Linked DNA regions of Homo sapiens. The protein of the gene in region 1 interacts with the protein of each later gene in a pairwise test. Each region holds a gene or a part of one and is shown on either strand. Other genes may lie near its edges. The genes, in order: SMS and MAPKAPK3.

Evidence for each region.
Region 2: the proteins of SMS (region 1) and MAPKAPK3 interact in a two-hybrid assay, tested with the Homo sapiens proteins (one large-scale study listed by BioGRID and IntAct).

Annotation. Positions count from the first base shown.
Region 1 is NC_000023.11:21,971,709-21,975,208, forward strand, and holds part of SMS (spermine synthase), read left to right. Parts: intron 1-188; coding exon 189-282; intron 283-798; coding exon 799-863; intron 864-3,500. UniProt on the Homo sapiens protein: Catalyzes the production of spermine from spermidine and decarboxylated S-adenosylmethionine (dcSAM).
Region 2 is NC_000003.12:50,633,902-50,637,921, forward strand, and holds part of MAPKAPK3 (MAP kinase-activated protein kinase 3), read left to right. Parts: intron 1-4,020. UniProt on the Homo sapiens protein: Stress-activated serine/threonine-protein kinase involved in cytokines production, endocytosis, cell migration, chromatin remodeling and transcriptional regulation.

The DNA.
Region 1 (3,500 bases):
TCCACAAATGATTGGTAGTTTCTCCCCGCAAGACGCAGCCCTAGTAAGAAAGCAAAAAGCTTAACTGTATACTTTTGGGGAAATAAAGAGCAGTGGTCTTTTAATTGGGTGACATCTCTCTCTCTCTCTCTTTTTTTTTTAATGCCCCGATACAATTCTTAAGCTTAAAATTATATTTTCCTTTGTAGCTTTGCCAATTTGAGAATTTACCCACATGGATTGGTGTTGCTGGACCTTCAGAGTTATGATGGTGATGCGCAAGGCAAAGAAGAGATCGACAGTGTCGGTTTTTCACTTTCATTTACTCAGTGTTTAAGGATCATAGTATCTGCTTAGCTTAGTGTTAAAATAATGTTCTCTTCATTGCTTACTTTCCAGTTAATTTTAAACTTTCCTCCCTCCACATAAGTGATTTTAGAATAGAAGTAGTTGTTTAGTTGTTTTTAGGAACCTGGGTGTCAGCGTTCCCTTTTAACTGCCTTAGTATGAGTAATCTTATTTTCCACTGGAGGGAATAGAAAACCTTTAACCAGGATTTTATAGCTGCAGTACCCTTTAGCCTTCCTCTTCCGTGTTACTTTGTTGCTAACTTACGCTAAGGTTAGGTCAGCAACATGAAGGGATAGTTGGTATGGGAGAGTGGAATTGGGCCAGGCGTCTACAGGCTGCTAGAGGGTAGGAGGAGGGACAGGTCAATCTTGCACAGCTCTGTCAACATGGCCTCAGTCGTTGGGTCTGTAATTTAGTTCTTCCATGCAGCTTATTCTACAAGCCCATTGATTTTTCTTTTAATTGTAGATTTTGAACAAAGTAGAGGAAAGAATGAAAGAATTGAGTCAGGACAGTACTGGGCGGGTGAAACGGTAAGTCCACTCTTGAATGTCCTTTTATATTTAATCGATTGAAACAATCATAGTTGGCTGGGCGCGGTAGCTCACACCTGTAATCCCAGCAATTTAGGAGGCCGAGGCAGGCGGATCACTTGAAGTCAGGAGTTTGAGACCAGCCTGGCCAATGTGGCAAAACACCGTCTCTACTAAAAATACAAAAATTAGCTGGACGTGGTAGTGCATGCCTGTAATTCCAGCTACTTGAAAGGCTGACGCATGCGAATGGCCTGAACCGAGGAGGCAGGAAGCAGAGGTTGCAGTGAGCTGAGATCATCGCACCGCTGCACTCCTGCCTGGGTGACACAATGAGACTGTCTCAAAAAAAAAAAAAAAAAAAAAAAATTCAGAATGGCAGTGTGGTCCCCAGTAGTGTCTGCTTAAGATGTGGAAAAGATCAAACTCAGCACCTCCTTCTGGCAACATGGTGAACTGAACTACTGGGCCCCTCACACCAAAACAAGACAGTGTATGAACATTCATGTGCATGGATGCACACACACAAATGCTAGGTAAAATGAAACTAAGGCAGAAAGGGGATATGGACCAACTCCAAGGAGTTGGAACTGCCTAAAGTGGAGACCCAGGTAGAGCTGCCACCTCATCAAAGGGAGCTAGAAAACTCCTGACTTCAGTTCGAGACCAGCCTGACCAACATGGGTGAAACCCCGTCTCTACTAAAAATAGAAAAAGTAGCCAGGCGTGGTGGTACGTGCTTGTAATCCCAGCTTCTCAGGAGGCTGAGGCAGGAGAATAGCTTGAACCCGGGAAGCGGAGGTTGCAGTGAGCTGAGATCGCACCACTGCGCTCCATCCTGGGCAACAGAGTGAAACTCGCCTCAAAACAAAACAAAACAAATACCTGACTTCAACCTTTCCAGGAAAGAGAAAAGGTCACTTTTTCTCCTTCAGGCTCTAGGCCCCAGAGTGAAGTTAAGCAATTTTAAGAGACTTCCGACAGGGTGGGGTGATAAGAAAATTTGCCTCAAGGCGTTCAAAGAAGAAAACTTTCCAAGATACTAAGAATTGATAGGCCACCAACTTTAAGCTGCCATAGGCAGGTTATTTTCAAGTGATCATGAGGAAAATGAAGCTCTCCCTATCCAGTGGGATGGGCACTAGCCCCACATGGCTATTTAAAGTTAATTAAAATACACAATTCAGTTCCTTAGTCACAATAGCTAGTGGTTAGTGTCTGCCATGTGGGACAGTACAACTACGGAACATTTTCATCATCCAAATTTCTATCGGACACTGCCGAAGTGTTTGCCAGTGGTGTCAGATTTTAAAAGAATGCAATTCGGACATCGTGGGAAGGAACTAGTGTCTGGTACATCATGGGAATTAAGAAGTGCTTTGGATACACAGCATGCAAATGCAGGACAATTTACTCTTGCCCTGCCTTGGTGGATCCTCATCAGGCCTTAAGGCATAGAAGGCCTGTCCCTTGCTCATAAAATTAACCTCAGTTGCAGAGACCAACACAGAGGGACTTCCTCATTGCTGAGCAACGGAAATACAGGTTTCTCCAGTTCATGGCACTTTCCAGAAGAAGGAATCCTTATTGGCAAGTGTTAGGATGTTTAAGTACTTAATTACTCAGCATGCTAAGTTTGATCAGCCCACAAGAAAGCTCCAGAGCAGATGTAAGATAACTAGGTAATTGTTTAACCTTCTGTAGTTAAAGAGGAAAGCAGGAAACTGAAAGTGAAAAGAAGACGCCACAGTATAGAACTATTTTTTTGAGATCTGTTAGAGCACTCAGGCTCTTTTGGAGCACCCAAGCTCAGTTTAGGGTCCCCAGCCATGTCTCTTACCCTTCACCTTCCTTTAAAAACACATCCACACCCATATACCCATACCACTTTTTGGACATTTCATCTTTTCCTGTTGGCAGGGTTTTCCTTATCTGCACCCATTTGGAATGAACAGGTTCCCCACTGTCAGAAAGGGTCTTAACTTTATGATAATGAATTGGTCCACATCAAAATGTGGTCTGATTTTTATCAGTTGCCTCTAGGAGTGAGTAAACAGCATACATTTATGGGCTTCAGCATTCATGAGAAGTCTGGTTCTTTTCCTTTTTTGGTATAGGAGTTTTCTAAGAGTGGAGTTAAGCTTTAGATCTTCAAAATACCTTGCTTATGCTTGTCACAGTTTTTATTATCTTTTCATGAAATAAGGTTGACGACAGCTAGAAATTGGGTATACCTTGTTGTAAACCCTTTGTTACTGGCCTCAAAAGGACAAGGATTGCTATCCTTTTTTTTTTTTTTTTTTTTAAATCTGGAGAATAAAGATCAGAGGTTAAATGTTAGAGATTAAATCATTAACAAATAACCCAGTAACATTATCTGAAATTATTCCCCTTTGATAAGTTAAGTCTGAATTTTCGACTAAGAAGCTATGGGATGTACTTGAATTTATTTTTGTTTTCTACTTTCAAGTGAAAAAACAAGAAAACAAGGTCACATAAATTAACTTTGATTTTAAAAGGTTCTTGCAATTTACACAGTATACCTAAGGCCTGGGCTATAATCTACCTGAATTGGTGTAGTCCAGTTTCATTTTTCAGCAGTGAAGGTTGAAACGAGTTTGGTAGGGTGCTCTACAG
Region 2 (4,020 bases), on another chromosome or scaffold:
CCTTGGGTGGAAAGGGATATAGTGGTGATAGTGAGGGGCCTGGCCTGTTTTGAGGCCCCCACATTCCACCTGGTGATGCTAGAGGGGCACGGGCCCTTCTGCTCTCAAATTTTGCTGGGGCTCACTAGCTGGTGAAGTCAGTAGGGGTCTTGGCCTTCTGGCTGCTGGCTCTGGGGGCAAGAGAGAGAATTTGGCAAAGGAGGATGAGGGGAGAAGGGAAAGTGAAAACCAGTATATCAGAGCCTGAGGCCTGTGGTCACTCGCTAAAGGAAACATCATCTCAAATTCAATGCTTGTTGAGCTTCAGTGGGGACCCACACCTCAGGTGCATGGCCAGGAATCCCCTTCCTCAGGAAGAAGCCCAGTTTCCACCTCACAGGGGTGTGTGTATGTGTACGTCTGTGTGTGTGTGTGAATGTGTGTCTGTGTGTACCTATTGGGCACTAGCTGGAGCTGTGGAGCTGCCCAAGTGCCATCACAGACCCTCCAGTTCTGGTGGACCCCTGGGGAGCTCAGGGAACATAGGAGAGGAATGAGGCAAGGGTGGGGGCCCGTTGGGTTGTCAGAAATCCCCTCCTATCTTCTTCTTCTTTTTTTTTTTTTCTGAGGCAAAGTCTTATTTTCTTGCCCAGGCTGGAGTGCAATGATGCGATCTCGGCTCACTGCAACCTCCACTTCCCGGGTTCAAGCCATTCTCCTGCCTCAGCCTTCCAAGTAGCTGGGATTACAGGTGCGTACCACCACACCCAGCTAATTTTTTTGTATTTTTAGTAGAGATGGGGTTTCACCATGTTGGCCAGGTTGGTCTCAAACTCCTGACCTCAGGTGATCCTCCCGCCTCGGTCTCCCAAAATGTTAGGATTACAGGCGTAAGCCACCGTGCTTAGCCCCTTCCTATCTTCTTGTCTTCCCAGCTGTGACTGGGAACCATGACATCATTGCCCATTTCAGGTAGCCCCCAGTGGGCTCAGGCATGTGGATATGGAGGCCATGGGGACCCAGAGGCTGCTCCATGGGGGCAATGATGTGGGAGTGGTACTATGGTAGGTACTTTGCAAGGAACGCCTGTCTAGAAGTCTGCCTTGTTACCCACTTATCTCCCCCACCCTATATAGCCCAAGCCCTACAGCTTAACTTTGGGGAAACAGAGGCCCAGAGAGGAAAAGGGACTGGCCTAAGGTCATACTGAGAATAGGCATAGAACCTGGGCCTCCTGTGTCCTGGCCCTGTGCTCATTCTCATGCCTGGGAAGATGGAGCTCTTACTTTGGGACATCTTTTGTGAAGAATAGTGTGGAGTCATGTACCTATGTGAAGGAGGCCAACTTGCAGAAATGCCTTGTGGAATGGAGCAGTCATGATGGGCTCCCTGGAAGAGGAGGTAAAGCCTGGTTCAACAGAGAGGGTAGGTGAGGTACAGGCTGCCCTTGGGCAGCAGGGAGAAAGTTTGCCAGGTTGTCATGTCTCCCATTTGTTGAGCCTCACTGGGGCCTCCTCAATTTAATCTTTTTTTTTTTTTTTTTTTTTTTTTTTTTGAGATGGAGTTTCATTCTGTCATCTAGGCTGTAGTGCAGTGGCACGATCTCAGCTCACTGCAACCTCCGCCTCCTGGGTTCAAGTGATTCTTCTGCCTCAGCCTCCTGAGTAGCTGGGGTTACAGACGCACACCACCACACTAACTAATTTTTGTATTTTTAGTAGAGATGGGGTTTCACCATGTTTGTCAGGCTGGTCTCAAACTCCTGATCTCGTGATACACCTGCCTCAGCCTCCCAAAATGCTGGGATTACAGGCGTCAGCCACCACGCCTGGCCAATTTAATCTTATCTTGTCCTCATGATAGGTTGTGAGAGGTTTTCCCCCTCATCCTTACTCTATAGATTTATTAAATCTACAAATATTGATAGGCACAGTGGCTCATGCCTACAATCTCAGTGCTTCAGAAGCCAAGGCAGGAGGATCACTTGAGCCTAGGATTTCGAGACCAGCCTGGGCAACATGATAAAACCCCGTCTCTACCAAAAAAAAAAAAAAAAAAAAAAAAAACCAAAAAAAAAAAAAATTAGCCAGGTGTGGTGGCATGCACCTGTGGTCCCAGCTACTTGGGAGGCTGAGGTGGGAGAATCATTGAGCCCAGGAGATCAAGGCTGCAGTGAGCTGTGACTGTGTCACTGCACTCCAGCCTGGGTGACAGAGCAAGATTCTGTCTCAAAAAAAAAATCTACAACTATTACCTGAGTTAGTGCTCTGTGTCAGGCCCCGTATCCCAGTACTGGGACCTAGAGGTGGCCAGGCAGACTGGCCCTGCCCTGTGGGCCCACAGTCTGATGAGGGAGGCTGCTGGTGTTGGCCTGGCTGGGGGATCAGCCATGTGATTTGGGGCCAGTTACTTCCCCTCTCTGTGCCTCAATTTCTCATCCAAAAAGTGGTGATAATGAAGTCCTTTCCTCCTAATGTTTATAAAGTACTCCAAACAGAGCCAGGCACATTGAAAGTACAATATCTGTATGTGTGTTTTTGCTTAAAGAGTTATCAAAGGAACAAGCTAATTGTATGTTGTGAGCAAGTGCTGCACAGGAAGTGAAAAGGGCGATGACGTGAGAGCTTTCTGGGGAGCTAGGAATGTTTTCTGTCTTGATGGAAGTTTGGGTCCCAAGGGTGTGTGCAATCATCAAAACTCATTGAATTGGACCCTTGAGACCTGGGCATTTTACTATATGTCAATTATACCTCAATAAACAAAGCATATATTGAAAGAAAGAAAAACAAAGGATGAAGAGGGAGGGCTTCTGAGAGGAGATGACATTGAGGTGGACCACATTGAGGGGAGGCCTGGAGGAGAAGGCTCTGGCTATGGGGAAGGAAGATGAGAAAACTGAGGCTCTAGGAGGTTTTGGGCTCAGGGTCAACTCAAGGGGTCAGGAGAGACAGCTCAGGGGATTTCTTGGCAGCTGGACCTGGGCCCAGGCTGAGGGCTCTGGCTCCTGTGATGTACTCTGCAGAGAGGCCAGTGGGGCGTTTATTATATTTTCCGGGGACGGCCCTCTCCCCTGTCCCTATGCCTATTTTCAGGGCTTTGGCGTTTGTAGAGGGACTATTTTAATCCATGTGGGAAATGGGTTCCTAAATATGGACTCAGTGGGGCAGAAGCCTTGAGAGGCTCCAGCTCAGGGCAGCTCCACCTGCTCCTCTACCTCAGCAAAGCACAGGATGCAGGCCCAGGCTGGAAGGCTCTCCAGCCCCTCCTTGGCCATCTACCGCCCTCCTTCTTTCCCTCTGGCTCCTCCTATCTCCCTCCAGTCCTGGGCCCATCCTCCCATCCTTTGTTTGCTCGGAAGCCCAGTGTTTCCTGCCAGGCCCCAGCCAGGGACCCCCAAGTGAACTTGACCTGCCTCTGCCCTCAAGCTGCTCCCAGGGTGGTAGGAGGAACAGAAGCAAAACCAGTAAGAAAGGTGCTGGGAGGGGCCGGGCGTGGTGGCTCACACCTGTAATCCCAGCACTTTGGGTGGGTGGATCACGAGGTCAGGAGATCGAGACCATCTTGGCTAACACGGTGAAACCCCATCTCCACTAAAAATGCAAAAAATAGCTGGGCGTGGTGGCGGGCACCTGTAGTCCCAGCTACTCGGGAGGCTGAGGCAGAATGACGTGAACCCGGGAGGCGGAGCTTGCAGTGAGCCGAGATCGTGCCACTGCACTCCAGCCTGGGTGACAGAGCAAGACTCTGTCTCAAAAAAAAAAAAAAGAAAAGAAAAAGAAAAAAAGGTGCTGGGAGGACTTTCCAGAGAGAGAAAGAGAGAGAGAGAGAGAGAGAGAGAGAGAGATGGAGACAGAGAGAGAGAGAGATTGATCGATCTGAATTGAGCCCTGAAGTTTCCCCAAAAAGAGGGAGTTGACCCAACAGAGAGGATGAGGCAAGAATGCACATGACAGGGACCAGCACAGACCTAGACACAGAGGCCTGGGGGAGTAAGGCCTGTTTGGGAACAACATATATATTTTTCTGGCCAGAACAAAGTGG